4 linked regions of the Homo sapiens genome follow. The protein of the gene in region 4 interacts with the protein of the main gene of each other region in a pairwise test. Each region holds a gene or a part of one and is shown on either strand. Other genes may lie near its edges.

Evidence for each region.
Region 1: the proteins of NUDT21 (region 4) and CTNND2 interact in a two-hybrid assay, tested with the Homo sapiens proteins (one large-scale study listed by BioGRID and IntAct).
Region 2: the proteins of NUDT21 (region 4) and SEM1 interact in a two-hybrid assay, tested with the Homo sapiens proteins (one large-scale study listed by BioGRID and IntAct).
Region 3: the proteins of NUDT21 (region 4) and KIFAP3 interact in a two-hybrid assay, tested with the Homo sapiens proteins (one large-scale study listed by BioGRID and IntAct).

Annotation. Positions count from the first base shown.
Region 1 is NC_000005.10:10,974,392-10,977,446, reverse strand, and holds part of CTNND2 (catenin delta-2), read left to right. Parts: intron 1-3,055. UniProt on the Homo sapiens protein: Has a critical role in neuronal development, particularly in the formation and/or maintenance of dendritic spines and synapses. Involved in the regulation of Wnt signaling.
Region 2 is NC_000007.14:96,699,847-96,703,346, forward strand, and holds part of SEM1 (26S proteasome complex subunit SEM1), read right to left. Parts: intron 1-3,500. UniProt on the Homo sapiens protein: Component of the 26S proteasome, a multiprotein complex involved in the ATP-dependent degradation of ubiquitinated proteins.
Region 3 is NC_000001.11:169,980,696-169,984,195, reverse strand, and holds part of KIFAP3 (kinesin-associated protein 3), read left to right. Parts: intron 1-813; coding exon 814-926; intron 927-1,328; coding exon 1,329-1,494; intron 1,495-2,098; coding exon 2,099-2,224; intron 2,225-3,500. UniProt on the Homo sapiens protein: Involved in tethering the chromosomes to the spindle pole and in chromosome movement. Binds to the tail domain of the KIF3A/KIF3B heterodimer to form a heterotrimeric KIF3 complex and may regulate the membrane binding of this complex.
Region 4 is NC_000016.10:56,434,333-56,437,832, forward strand, and holds part of NUDT21 (cleavage and polyadenylation specificity factor subunit 5), read right to left. Parts: intron 498-3,500; coding exon 422-497; intron 114-421; coding exon 1-113. UniProt on the Homo sapiens protein: Component of the cleavage factor Im (CFIm) complex that functions as an activator of the pre-mRNA 3'-end cleavage and polyadenylation processing required for the maturation of pre-mRNA into functional mRNAs.

The DNA.
Region 1 (3,055 bases), on a different chromosome or scaffold from region 4:
GCATACTTTCCAAACATCCTTTTGAGCTTCTACCAGTCCACCCCATAATTACAAAGAGAAATATCATGTTGAACGGTATCTATCTAGCTGACAACAGGATTTTTGTTCAGGAACTAGAAACAAAGAGCTTTGCTGTTTTGATGACCAATATTTAAATGATAACAAAACCGGAATCTTGAGTTCCTTCCTGGTGTCCTTAGTTCCACTGTCACGTGAGCAGGCCAGTTGTAATTGTCTGCAGAAATGAGGAAGATGAGATCCCAGGAGGATACGTGTTTCCTTCAGTCCCCCAGCCAGGAAGAGGCAAATACTCATCTTGGTTCTTCTGTCTTCCTGTCCCATTTTTTTTACCTCTGTGCCAATGGTTCTCAAATTGGAGCATGAGCCAGAATTCCCCAAAGGGCTGTTAAAGCACAGATTGCTGGGGCCCATCGCCAGAGGCCCTGATTCAGTAGGTCTGGAGTGGGACCCAGTAATCTGCATTTCTAACAAGTTCCCAGGTGATGCTGATGCTGCTGGTCTTGGGATTATGCTTTGAAGACCACTGATACTTCATATCTGGCCTCCTTCATTTTCTGTGAACACTCTGAGTCTTTCTATGAACACTCTGAGACATGGAAAAGTTGGAAGAGCTATACTGGGCTACTATTTCCCTTGTGTTCAAAATAAATCCAGTTTCCTGGCAAATTCATTAAGGAATAAACCCAAAGAAGTCTTTTGTCATTATGCTAACAGAGTTGGAAGGTGTCATGACACTATCCTTCATAATTTAGAGTGAATATTCTACTGTTGAGGAAAAAGTTCAGCAAAGATGACTTGGTAGAAACAGAAGCCATGGAACAGAGCGCAGAGAGCGTGAGCATATTGACCCTGGAGTGAGCTGCTGGTCACCACCCCTTTCCAAAACAAGATGCAGCGTTAAGGCAAAGAAGGCAAAAGCTTCGGGCTTGCGTATTCCTGGGCTTCTCTAGACCGTAACAGACACCCAGATTCAGAAATCCCCTCTGCTCTATTGGGGCATCATTCTACATCCCTCATCCAAATCTGGCTGATGCAAACTGTGCAATTTTTAATGCATTTATTTTTAGCTCTTATGTGAGGAGGGCTTTGGGAGGGGTCATTTCATCAGCCAGATTTTCAACTGTCAGATATTCCCTTAAAGTTTAAAATGCAGCCAATATTCCTCCACTGTGGATGTGTTTCACCAGCAAACGTCCATACCACAAGAGCAAATACCACAAGACGTCCATACCACAAGAGCAAATACCACAAGATACCACAAGAGCAAATACCACAGAAATGTCCATACCACAAGAGCAAATACCACAGTGAGCAAATTCTGTCTCTCCGGGTGCAGCAGTGACACGTGTCACCTGTGACAGTTCATTTGTACACACTTTTGGGACTGGGGCACCAAACCTCAGAAGTGATTGGTGTGGGATTTTATGAACAGTACAGATGAATGAAGAAGTTAATTCTCTGGGGTAAGAGGCTGAAAAAGCTGATACCCAGCTCCCAAATGTTCACCAACCAGAGAGAACATGACAACAGTCAAAGCAATTTGAACGAGGTTGTGCAAAAGAACCAAAAAAATGAAAGCAGAAGCCACTTTGGAGGAGAGCTATAACCCTTGTGAGTGACTCCTCCTGAAGATGTCCCTGTCCCCTGCACTGCCTTCCCTGGCCCCCAAAAATCCATAAGAAAACACACCGCTTCTTGGTCTCTTTTGTCCACCGACTTTCTTATCTTAGAGCCTAGAGTCAGCTCCTTGAGGCCTGTCCTCCAAGGTTTGGCCACCTTGGCTCTGATGGGACTGGACTACGTTGGTAGAACACCTGGGTTTTAGAGTCAGCCAGCCGTATGTTCCAGTTCCAGTTCACAACACCACTAGCTATGACGTTTTGGAGAAGTTTCTTAACTTCTCTGTGCTTCAGTTTTCTCATCTATAAGGTGGGAGTTTGCTTGAGGGATGGATGGATGGATGGATTGGTGGGTGGATAGGAAGACAGACAGATGATAGATTATAGATATTGATGTAGACAGACACAAACACACATAAATATTTATGACTACTGGAGTATTAAAGAATTTGCTAAATGTTGAATAGGGTGCCCTGCTGAACAAGAAACACAGCAAATCTAGTTCCCTCCCTGTATAATTTTTCCAAACTTCTAGATTCTGAGCCTTTGCATGTCTTGCACTTGGAAAACAGCCCTGTGTTGGAGTGGAGTTCAGCAGCACACAAGCAGAGCTCTTCAAAGAATAGCAAAGGGCACCCCAACCTAGCAACGCAGTCCAGTAGACCTGGACTTAGCAGTATTTAATTGCAGATGTTGCACATTCATTCCAAATGTTCCTCTCATCCTTTGTTAGCTCTCAGGCTAACAAAGGTTTATCCTCTATGGACTTTTGGACTTCTGTAGGTAGACAGAAACCTCATTCATTCAGCTACCACTAACTAGACACGTGGGACATCCTAGACAGCTGCTGTGATGAAGTTCACCACTTCTTTGAAGATCAGGTTGATTACTAGTATAAATCAATGACATATATAAGAGGGAGTTTCACTTACTTGAGAGAAGAATTATGTGTAAGCCTTTAAAAGCATTCATTTACACACAACGTGCTAATTACAAATCATTATCTATTAACTAAGACCAATTTCTAGAGAACGTTTCCGTGCTGAACTTTAGTTAAATTAATAGGGAGTCACTGAGTCCACCCAAAAGTGATCAAACAGTATTTCTTTAAGAGTGTTTAATAATTCACACCAGATCTCCTCCCCAATTACTGCACATTAGCAGAGCTTTGTGCATCCCGGTATGCACTTGCTGTAGGGTTAACCTCACCCTATACCTTGGGAGGTTCTGCTCATTTCAGGGGCAGGTGCTTGAAAAGGGACCCCAGGGACTAGAACAGATACAAATGCACCAATGTTTATTGCAACATTATTTACAGCAGCTAAAAGGTAAAAATAACCCAAGCGTCCATCAATGGATGAATGGATAAATAAAATGTGGTCTATGCATACCATGGACTATTTTATTCTTATATA
Region 2 (3,500 bases), on a different chromosome or scaffold from region 4:
GAGTCCCACCCCAGGATAAACACTTCCAAAATACTAAAGCACTCTAGCTTGGTGTTAAAACCACTGATTCTTCTCTCCCTTAACTACTACTTACTAAGTTCAAAGACAAATATCTATAGAAGTCAAATTTGCTTCAAGACAGCCTCTAATTAACTGTGACCTTGGGTAAATTAAATTTTTCTGATCCCTAGGTATAAAACTTATACCTCAAAGAGCTATGAAGACTCAATGACACTGTGTATGTAAAGCACTTAGTACTGATAAATGGCAGCTAATACCATTCTCTCTGTACTTTTCAGTACCAGATTTATAGGAAACACTCAACAAATACATGTCAAATGAATAAATCCTTTATTACATACATGCTAATCACTGGAAAGGCAATTTGTGGGATGAGAGAGGTGAGTAGAGAAACATGTCCTAGAATATAAACAATACAATTTCCACCAAACATTACATGTACACCAGAGTACACAACCAGACAAAGGATTAAGGATATTTGGTAAATTTTAAATACTTATGAAGAAGAGTACACTCATCCCTCGGTATACTCGGGGTACTTGTTCCAGGACAGCCCAAGTATACCCAAATCTATGTATATTCAGGTCCCATGGTTAGCCAAGTGGTAGTCAGCCCTCTCTACAGGTGGGTTCCATATCCTGTGAATATCGTACTTCCTTTTCCCATTTAGTTGAAAAAAATCTGTGTATAAATGGACCCTCACACTTCAAACCATGTTGTTAAAGGGTCAACTGTATACAGTTTTTGAAACTTATTTTCCTCTCAATGTTTTCGCAGTTCATCACATCTTTCAATGAGTAATGTTTAACAAACAAGTAGTAACATTAAACACTACTTAAACCACAATTGCTTACTGCTTGCTCATTCCATAGAACCAATGAAATAGCTAACCAAATAGTTTTTCAAAGAGTTTTTCAGTGTTTAATATCCTGGTTCACACCTCTCACTATCCCTTCCCAAGCACCAGCATCTTGATTTGGGGGTTTTTCATTCCAATCTGTATATACCCCTAAATAATGTATGTTACTATTTTATGTGTCTTTCTATGAATAACCACATTATTAAGTACTTGTGGAAAAACATTTAATGGCAATTTTTTTAAATTTACAAGTTTCTAATACTGCAAAATAAATCAATTATCAAATAATTCACAAATTTAACAAGCTTAATTTTGAATATATTCAAAATTACTAAATACATGTCAGACACAGCTCAAATTCTAAATAAATATTAAACATCATCCAAAATCCAAACTCCTAAGTACATTAGAGGGGAGAGAAAAAAGGAGACTAATGTTTACTGAATACCAACTTTGTGCCAGACTCTGTTTACATATGTATCATTGTTCTGGACTAAATCTTTGTACCCTGGCCCCCCAAAACCCCCCCAAAAATTCTTATGTTGAAGCCCTCATCCTCAATATGATGGTATTCGGGAGGTAATCAGGATTGAATGAGGTCTTGCGGGTAGGGCTCCCATGATGGGATTAGTGCCTTAAGAGACACCAGAGAGCATGCACTCTTTCATTCTGCCACAAGAGAACACAGCACAAAGGCAGCCTTGTGCAAGGCAGGAAGAGTGGCCTCACCAAGAACTGTATCGACCTACACTTTAATCTTGGACTCCACAGCCTCCAGAATGGGTGAGAAAATAAATCTCTGATGTTTAAGCCACCCAGTCTATGCTATTTTGTTATGGTAGCCCAGGCCAACCATTACAATAATGTAATTCTTTCATGACTCTAATAAATATTATTAGCCATATATTACAGATAATGAAATTGAGGATTAAGATGGTAACAGCTCAGAGAAAAACATAATGGTTAATCTTACTTAAAAAAATCAATCCAAATCAAAATGATACAATTTTATTTTTCATTCATGAGGTCAGTAATGACTAACATGTTTACTATCTAGTGTAGCAAGCTTATGAGGGAAAAGGTGAACTGTAGATGAAAACATAAATTGGCATAACCCTTCTCAAAGGCAATTTGAGAGTATCTGTCAAAATTTAAGATATGCCAGGTCTAAGATGAGGTGTCTAAGCCCAAGTAGAGCAAGGAGGGCATTCCTGGAGAGGGGCAGCATGGTGTGGCTGGTGTGTCAGAGCCTGGACAGAACGAAGTCACCCACACTAGAGGATGGGAGGGTGGCCTGGCATAAAATGTGGAGCCCAAGTTGGGCAAGAAGGGCACCTGTTGGGGGCAGCAAAGATTGGTTAGGAAGGGGGATGACCAAATAGACAATACATTGAAGATAATGGAAGCCAGGTTTCTCACTATTGGAGAAGGGAATAACAAATGTAGAAAGGGAAAAAACTAGAATGAATCCAGTGGTGTTGAACTGCAATTGGAGACATCTGTGTGAACCCATGGTTTTATACATACACACACACACACACTCCTGTACATCCCTAGTTCCTTCCACTTAGAGGGTCTGGGAGCAGGAATATCCCAAATGCAATAAACATAAGCAAAGTGAAGACCCTGCATTCTAAATACCATTCTCCACTAAAAAGAAATCACATTGGAGCAACGGCTGATTTCACATATAAAATTAGTTTGGAATACACCTTGTGCCAGAATGCTAGGAAATGCACAAAGAATAATGGAGACATGGCAAAAGGACACAGAAGACAGCCTGAAGGAGTTCTGCATGTTCAAATATGGGACAATCTGAGAATCCAAATAATAGTTACAAATTATAACCTACTGAGTCAGAATCCACTAGTCCACACTGCTATACATTTTTTAAAAGATGAACAAGTTACAAGTTTGATGATCACTGGAATACTGTATTTACATAGTTTCAAAGTCCCTCCCCCAAAACTGCCTATTAGGAAGGGAAAATTAGTAACCTAACAATGGAAAGGCCTAACAAACACCACCTTAATAGTGATTGAAGTGAACATCCCCAGTAATGGAACAAATGAGAATAATGTTCCACCTAAAAAGATGTCATTAGAACAGAGCACCAGGACTACAATGTAGAACTTCTATCATGAGGAAATAGGCACAGGTGAGGAACATTCTACAAAATATCTGGCCTGTAGTCTTCTAAAGTGTGAAAATCATTAAAGTTAAAGACAAACAGGAAATGCTCTAGACTAAGGAAGACTAAAGAGACAGGACAAGATAATGTAATCCAGGACTCTATAGTAAGACATTATTGAGACAATGGGAGAAAGCTGAAAGTGATCTGTGGGTTAGATCATACAGGTTGAGTATCCCTTATTCAAAATGCTTGAGACCAGAAGTGTTTCAAATTTTGTATTTTTTTGAATTTTGAAATACTTGCATTATATATTTACAACTGGGCATCCCAAATCCCCTAATCTGAAATTTCATGTTGGTACTCAGAAAGTTTGAGATTCCGGAGGATTTCAGATTTGGGATGCTCAACCTATAGTAATGCATCAGTGCGTTAATTTCCTGATTTTGATGGTTGTCTTGTGACTATGTCCTTGTAGGAAATACACAT
Region 3 (3,500 bases), on a different chromosome or scaffold from region 4:
CCGATAGTTTTTGCCTTATTTGAAAAGTAGTATGTGTTTGTTATAAAAAGCACAAATGAGCAAAAAGGAAAAGATTTAAATCTTTATTTCCTACCATCCACAGATAATCATAGGTAAGATTTTAGTGTAATACTTCTGCATATTTTTAAATAAAAATGTGATTGTCTATATATCATGATACATTCTTTTAAAATTAGTAATATCTTGAAATAATATTTTATGTGATTAAGTGTTTTTATAAAGCATATTTGTTAATAACTGCAAAATTGTCTATTAAAGAATTTTGCCATAGTTTACTTCACTATTATGGATATAGTTCATTGCCACTTATTTTCCGTTACAAACAGTGCTATAGTAATTACCCATTCTCTGAATCTTTACACATTTTCATTTTTATATTGTTAGGATAAATTCCCAGAAGTACAATTTTTCTGAGTCAAAAGTATTTTTGTTTTTAACATTTGTAGTAGATATTGTAGGCACAAAAGAGCACATATGGTATGATTCTATTTATATGAAGTTCTATATCAGGCAAAATTTATATATGTTTAAAAATGAGACAGGGAAGAGGAAAAGTGATTATATCTGGGAAACAGGATTGACTGGGAAGGGGCACAAGTGAACTTTCTGGAGGGAATGAAAATACTCTGTATGTTGATATATGGTATGGGTTGCATCTAAATTAATCAAATTGTACCCTTAAGAGTTATGCATTTTACTAGATGTAAATTGTTGTGGCTTTTTTGAGAACTAAACAAAAAATTATTAAACTTAAGCTAACCTTAATTTTATTGGGGGACTTTTCTGTTTCAGGAAATGGGCTGAAGATGCTCATGAAGAGGGCTCTGAAGTTTAAGGATCCATTGCTGATGAAAATGATTAGAAACATTTCTCAGCATGATGGACCAACTAAAAATCTGTTTATTGTAAGTATCATTTTGGCTTTCTATTCAAATAGACTGGGAATTGAAATTGCTACATTTGGAAATACAGCTCTTACTGAGGTCTCGTCAAATATTAATTTATAATCCAAATTGCTCTTATGTTATCAACTTTGTTAGTTTAGCACCTAGAAATCTCAACCTATGTTTCAATGTTGTTTTTGTTTTGTGACCCTTACCCCTAATCCCTCCACCCCACTACAGTCTTCTTGCCTTAAACCAGTTCACCATAGGCTTCTTTAGCAATTTAGCTCAAGATTATTAAAACAAGAAAATCACATTTGATATTTACTTTTTCTTTCAATGAGTTAAATTGTTAGATTCCTGTGGGTTATTAGATTAAATAAAAAATAATTTAAATTTATATTAAAATTATGTTTTATTCAGGATTATGTTGGGGACCTTGCAGCCCAGATCTCTAATGATGAAGAAGAGGAGTTTGTGATTGAATGTTTGGGAACTCTTGCAAACTTGACCATTCCAGACTTAGACTGGGAATTGGTTCTTAAAGAATATAAGTTGGTTCCATACCTCAAGGATAAACTAAAACCAGGTTTGTGCTAAGTATTTCACTTTTGTATAATCACTAAGTTATTTCTTTCTGTTATGGATAAGGCTGCTAGAGCAGTATTGTGTGACTATTATTATGTTAGGAAAAGCCATTTCTTCTCACAGCTCTCTTCTCCCAGAAAGGTAGTCACTGGATCACCTCTTACATATATGTTCTCTTTTTCCTAAAAGTGTGTTTTCTTATGTTAGTTTCTATTTCCTATTCTACCTTTCTTGTGGTCTTTTGGTATTTTTTTATTCTGTCTCTTTAAAATTACCAAATACCATCCCTCTGCATATACATAAACACGCACAAAGGTCTTTGAGGCATTCAAATGAGTCTTTTATTTTCTGTGTCTATGTTGTCATTCAGTTGTACTCTCAAAGGCTCATTTCCACTTTTCTACTGCCCCCTGCCCCCACTATCACAAACTGTCATCAGCAAACATGGAAATTTGGAAAAAGGACAAATTTATAGCATATCAAGGATTCATATGACTTGATTTAATAGCTTTCAGTATCCTTTCTGTGTATTTACATTTTGATACTCTAAATGAATTTGGATCAGGACATTTCAGTGAAAACTTTCTATGGTTTGACTTCACTAGGTGCTGCAGAAGATGATCTTGTTTTAGAAGTGGTTATAATGATTGGAACTGTATCCATGGATGACTCTTGTGCTGCATTGCTAGCCAAATCTGGCATAATCCCTGCACTCATTGAATTGCTAAATGGTAAATAACCTTAATTTATTTTTATGTTAATGTCTAAACAGCTTATTGATTTAAATATTTAAATATAAAATGCAGAGTCTGTAATCTGTTTTTCTCATTACATTAATTGTTTCATAGCAACTTATATAATCAAGAAAAATGAATTAAATATACTGCTAACTGGGATTGGATAGAGTAATATCAAAGATCTTTAGCTTTCAAAGTTAAGAATGTTGCTGTAAAGCAGTTCAGGACCAATTTTACAGAAGTACTCTCCTCACCAACCTTGAACAACCAATATAGTAGTCACAACTTAATCAAGGGGAATACATTCCAAGACCCCCAGCAGATGCCTGAAACTACAGATACTATCAAACCCTATATATACTTTTTTTTTCTAAACATACCAATGATAAAGTTTAATTTATAAATTAGGCACAGTAAGAGATTAACAACCATAATTAATAATAAAACAGAAAAATTATAACAGTATGCTTAGCATCACTACTCTTATACTTTGGAGCCATTATTAAATGAAATAAGGGTTACTTGAATACAAGCATTGCAATACTATGCTAGTGGACCTGATAACTGAGATGGCTACTAAGGGACTAATGGGCAGGTGGCATGTACATCCTGGATACACTGGACAAAGGGATGATTCATGTCTTGGATGGGATGGAGTGGAACAGTGGGAAATTACATCACACTATTCAGAATTGTGCATAATTTAAAACTTATGAATTATTTCTAGGATTTTTCATTTAATATTTTTGACCATGGTTGACTGCAGTTAACTAAAACCATGGAAAGAAAAACCACAGATAAGGGAGGACCACTGTATTATATCACTTCTTTTTGTTTGTTTGTTTGTTTTTGTTTTGACTTTTTGAGACATAGTTTTGCTCTTGTTGCCCAGGCTGGAGTGCAATGGCATGATCTCGGCTCACCACAACCTCCGCCTCCCGGGTTCAAGCGATTCTCCTGCCTCAGCCTCCTGAGTAGCTGGGATTACAGGCATGCGCCACCACACCCAGCTAATTTTGTATTTTTAGTAGAAATGGGGTTTCTCCATGTTGGTCAGGCTGGTCTTGAACTCCCGACCTCAGGTGATCCGCCCACCTCGGCCTCCCAAAGTGCTGAGATTACAGGCGTGAGCCACTGTGCCCGGCTATATCACTTCTTTCTGTTGAGATTTGTGTTGGTTTGAATTGGATCTCTTCTCTTGTGCAAATCTTATTTTTTAAAACTTGATTTCTAAGTTGGAAGGTCCATTTGGAAGCTGATTCTAAACATC
Region 4 (3,500 bases):
GCTCAACAGCTGAGGGAGACTAGAAATGATGGGTCCATATCCTGGTGCATTGTCATACAATTCAAACAATGGTGCAGCTACCAGCTTGTAATTTTTAGGGACTGCAAACAAGGCTAAAATAAAACAGAATTCATTATTATAAGTTATTATATAATCACTGCTTCCATTTCATTTTTAAATTACCAATTTTACATTTAATAAAAAGTGTAAGAAAAAAGATAATTCTCATTAATACATTTTGGTTGTGTCTTTCAAGGTAGATTTCCTAGCCACAGATTTGAAACTAAAAGCATGGTATACATCTTTAGTTTTACAACAAACCCAAAAGTTCAAGGAACTTTGAGAAAACACAAATAGAGGTATCCTTGAAATTATTCTACAGAATTTTTAGATGGCTACCTTTGAAAACAAAATAACTTACCTTTTTCTTGAAGCTGAACCAGAAACAACTTCTTATGTTCCTTAGGCTTTGTAATATGTGCAGGAATATATGGATACTGAAATTACAAATGAATACAACTTTAATATGTATTCCATGGCTTCATTTCTTTACATGTTTACTCCCCAGTATAGTATAAACTGTTGGGAGAAGCATACTACTTTCTGTCCTCTTTACCAGGACTTATCTAACAGATACACTAGTAAATAAATGCTTTAATGCATATAAAATAACAAGCAGTAAACCAGTCAACCATTCGAGATAAAATATGTAGTCACAGGATTTATAGCTTGAGATACTTAAAACATAATGAAGTCCGATTTTAATTAGTATCTTTAATAAAAGCTTTTTTTTGTTTGTTTGTTTTTTAAGACAGAGTTTTGCTCTTGTTGCCTAGGCTGGAGTGCAATGGCGCAATCTCGGCTCACCACAACCTCTGCCTCCCAGGTTCAAGTGATTCTCCTGCCTCAGCCTCCTGAGTAGCTGAGATTACAGGCATGCGCCACCATGCCTGGCTAATTTTGTATTTTTAGTAGAGGCAGGGTTTCTCCAGGCTAGTCTTGAACTCCCGACCTCAGGTGATCCACCTGCTCTGGCCTCCCAAAGTGCTGGGATTACAGGCATCAGCCACCATGCCCAGCCTAAAAGCTGGTTTTTTAAAAATATATATATAGGCTGGGCACAGTGGCTCACGCCTGTAATCGCAGCACTTTGGGAGGCCAAGGCAGGCGGATCATGAGGTCAGGAGATCAAGACCATCCTGGCTAGCACAGTGAAATCCCGTCTCTACTAAAAATACAAAAAATTAGCCAGGCGTGGTGGCGGGCGCCTGTAGTCCCAGCTACTCGGGAGGCTGAGGCAGGAGAATGGCGTGAACCTGGGAGGCAGAGCTTGCAGTGAGCCGAGACTATGCCACTGCACTCCAGCCTGGGCAACAGAGTGAGACTCTGTCTCCCAAAAAAAAAAAAAAATTATATATATATATATATATATATATATATATATATATATATGATCAGTAAGTTAAACAGTCTAGAATCCTGTTGTAGACCTGTTTACATTAAAAATTCAAATATAAGCTGTGAGGCATTTGACAAGATGCTTCTTGCTCCTCCTTCCAGCCCCAACCTCAAACCTCCCCGTATGCCAAGGTGCATGCTTCAGGAATACCAGAAGAGCAGTCTAAGTGAAGTTTTGCCAGATGGGCAAAGCCAAATTACTCGAGGAAACAAATATAAAAATATATATATAATATATATGTATATTTTAGAGAATTTAAAGGGATGAAGAGAATTAGAGAGGGAAGTTGCTACCCGGGAAGGAAAAATTCTGACACAGAACAAAAAAAAAGTCTAAGGGTTATACAATTCTTGTATAAATCTCTCCACAATACATTCAGAAATCTACTTTTGCTGTTGGAGTTGTATCTGAGAGCTGGGGAATTTAAAATTGCTGAAAACAGATATAAGGGGAAAGTGAGATAAAAGCAGAAGCTGCCAAAAGGAGGTATTAGCATCATCCTCAATTTACACAGAATCACATGCTAAGAGAGGCTAAGTATCTTTCCCAAGATTACTCAGCCAAGTTGTGAAGCCAAGATTTAACTGTATCTATTCAACTCTTATCTAATTATAAAAGCCTATGTTATTTCCCACTGTGTTACTCATTGGCACCTAACCAGTATTCCAGTTAGAATAATTATATATCAGAGCCATCCCTAGGGTACAATGAATTGAGGCAATTGTCCCAGGCTTTGGAGGTTCCTTAAACTGTCATGAAAACCAGATACATTAACAGTCACAGAGAAAGTGGCCTGAATAGCACAAGCTAAGAGATCTGTGGATCACATACAATAAAAGTTCCCAAACCATGATCAAACAAAATGAGTAGCATTTCCCCAAATTTCTTCTGCTCAAGGCTACATGTTCCTATTTTTTTAAGCCTTTCTTCTCTGGTCTTAATGTTTAAGTTGACTGTACTTTATACAAAAAGACTGAGATAGGAAGATGATATGCTCCTTTTCCACTGACATCTAACTAATACTCTAGGCTTCCTAAATAAATCAATACACTTACCTTATGTCAAATACCACCAGGGCCAACTCTAGGCCTTACTGAATGAAGAGAACTGTCCTAGGACAGTGGTAGGGGAGATGAGTGAAGATATTCAGAAAAGTTATCTGGAAAACCACTGGGGTCACTACTAAGCATTTTCCAATTAGATCAAGGCATGTTCAGGAAGCCAAAAAAAAGTTTAGAATAACTGTACTATGTATCTTTGAACAAGTAACTTCACTGTTTCCATATGAAATTGTTCTTCCTTAAAGCCAAGATGTGTTCCTGGCAATTCTTAGGTAGTGAACACCAGCATCAGCTTCCACAGCCCCTATCTTCTTGTCCCTCTGCCATACAAGGGAGTCAGAAGCAAGAGAAAAGAACGATCTTTTGCTTGGTTGATATTTTGTGCAATGCTTGACCTGAAACATCTTGTCATGTAAAGGAGCTATAAAGTCATAGGGCTTTTTAATTTGCCTAAAGAATTCAGGATCCAACTTTAAGAAGTTCCACCATTAGCAAAAATAGGAATATTTGAGCATCAGTAACATCATCACTCATTATCATGGATTAAAATATTTCAAATTATTTAAATCCAAAAGGTCATACTGACACTTTAAAGGTCACTGAAACATGCTTTTTGTGTGTGTGTGCCCCACATTACGCTACCTCTGATTTCGGGGCAGCTATGTTTGAAAAGTATCAGAGGGTTCCCTGTTTGCTGCCACTGTCTCAACAAGCACTCAAGACTCAACATGGAAATGCAAGGGAGTTCATGCAACCCTTATCCAATGGGGTATAGGAGTCCCTACATGGTTCCTGGTCCTTAACAGAACAAATCCAGTTGCCCACAGGTGTAAAAAGATCAATAACATGCCCTGTCTTACTTCTGCTGCTTCTGGTCTCTCTCTCCCCTGTATTCTGCTGCTTCCTGGAATCACCTCTCAAACTGCCTGTACCCAAGTCTTGGTCTTACCCTCTCTTTTGAATAAAGTCAAGTCTTTAGA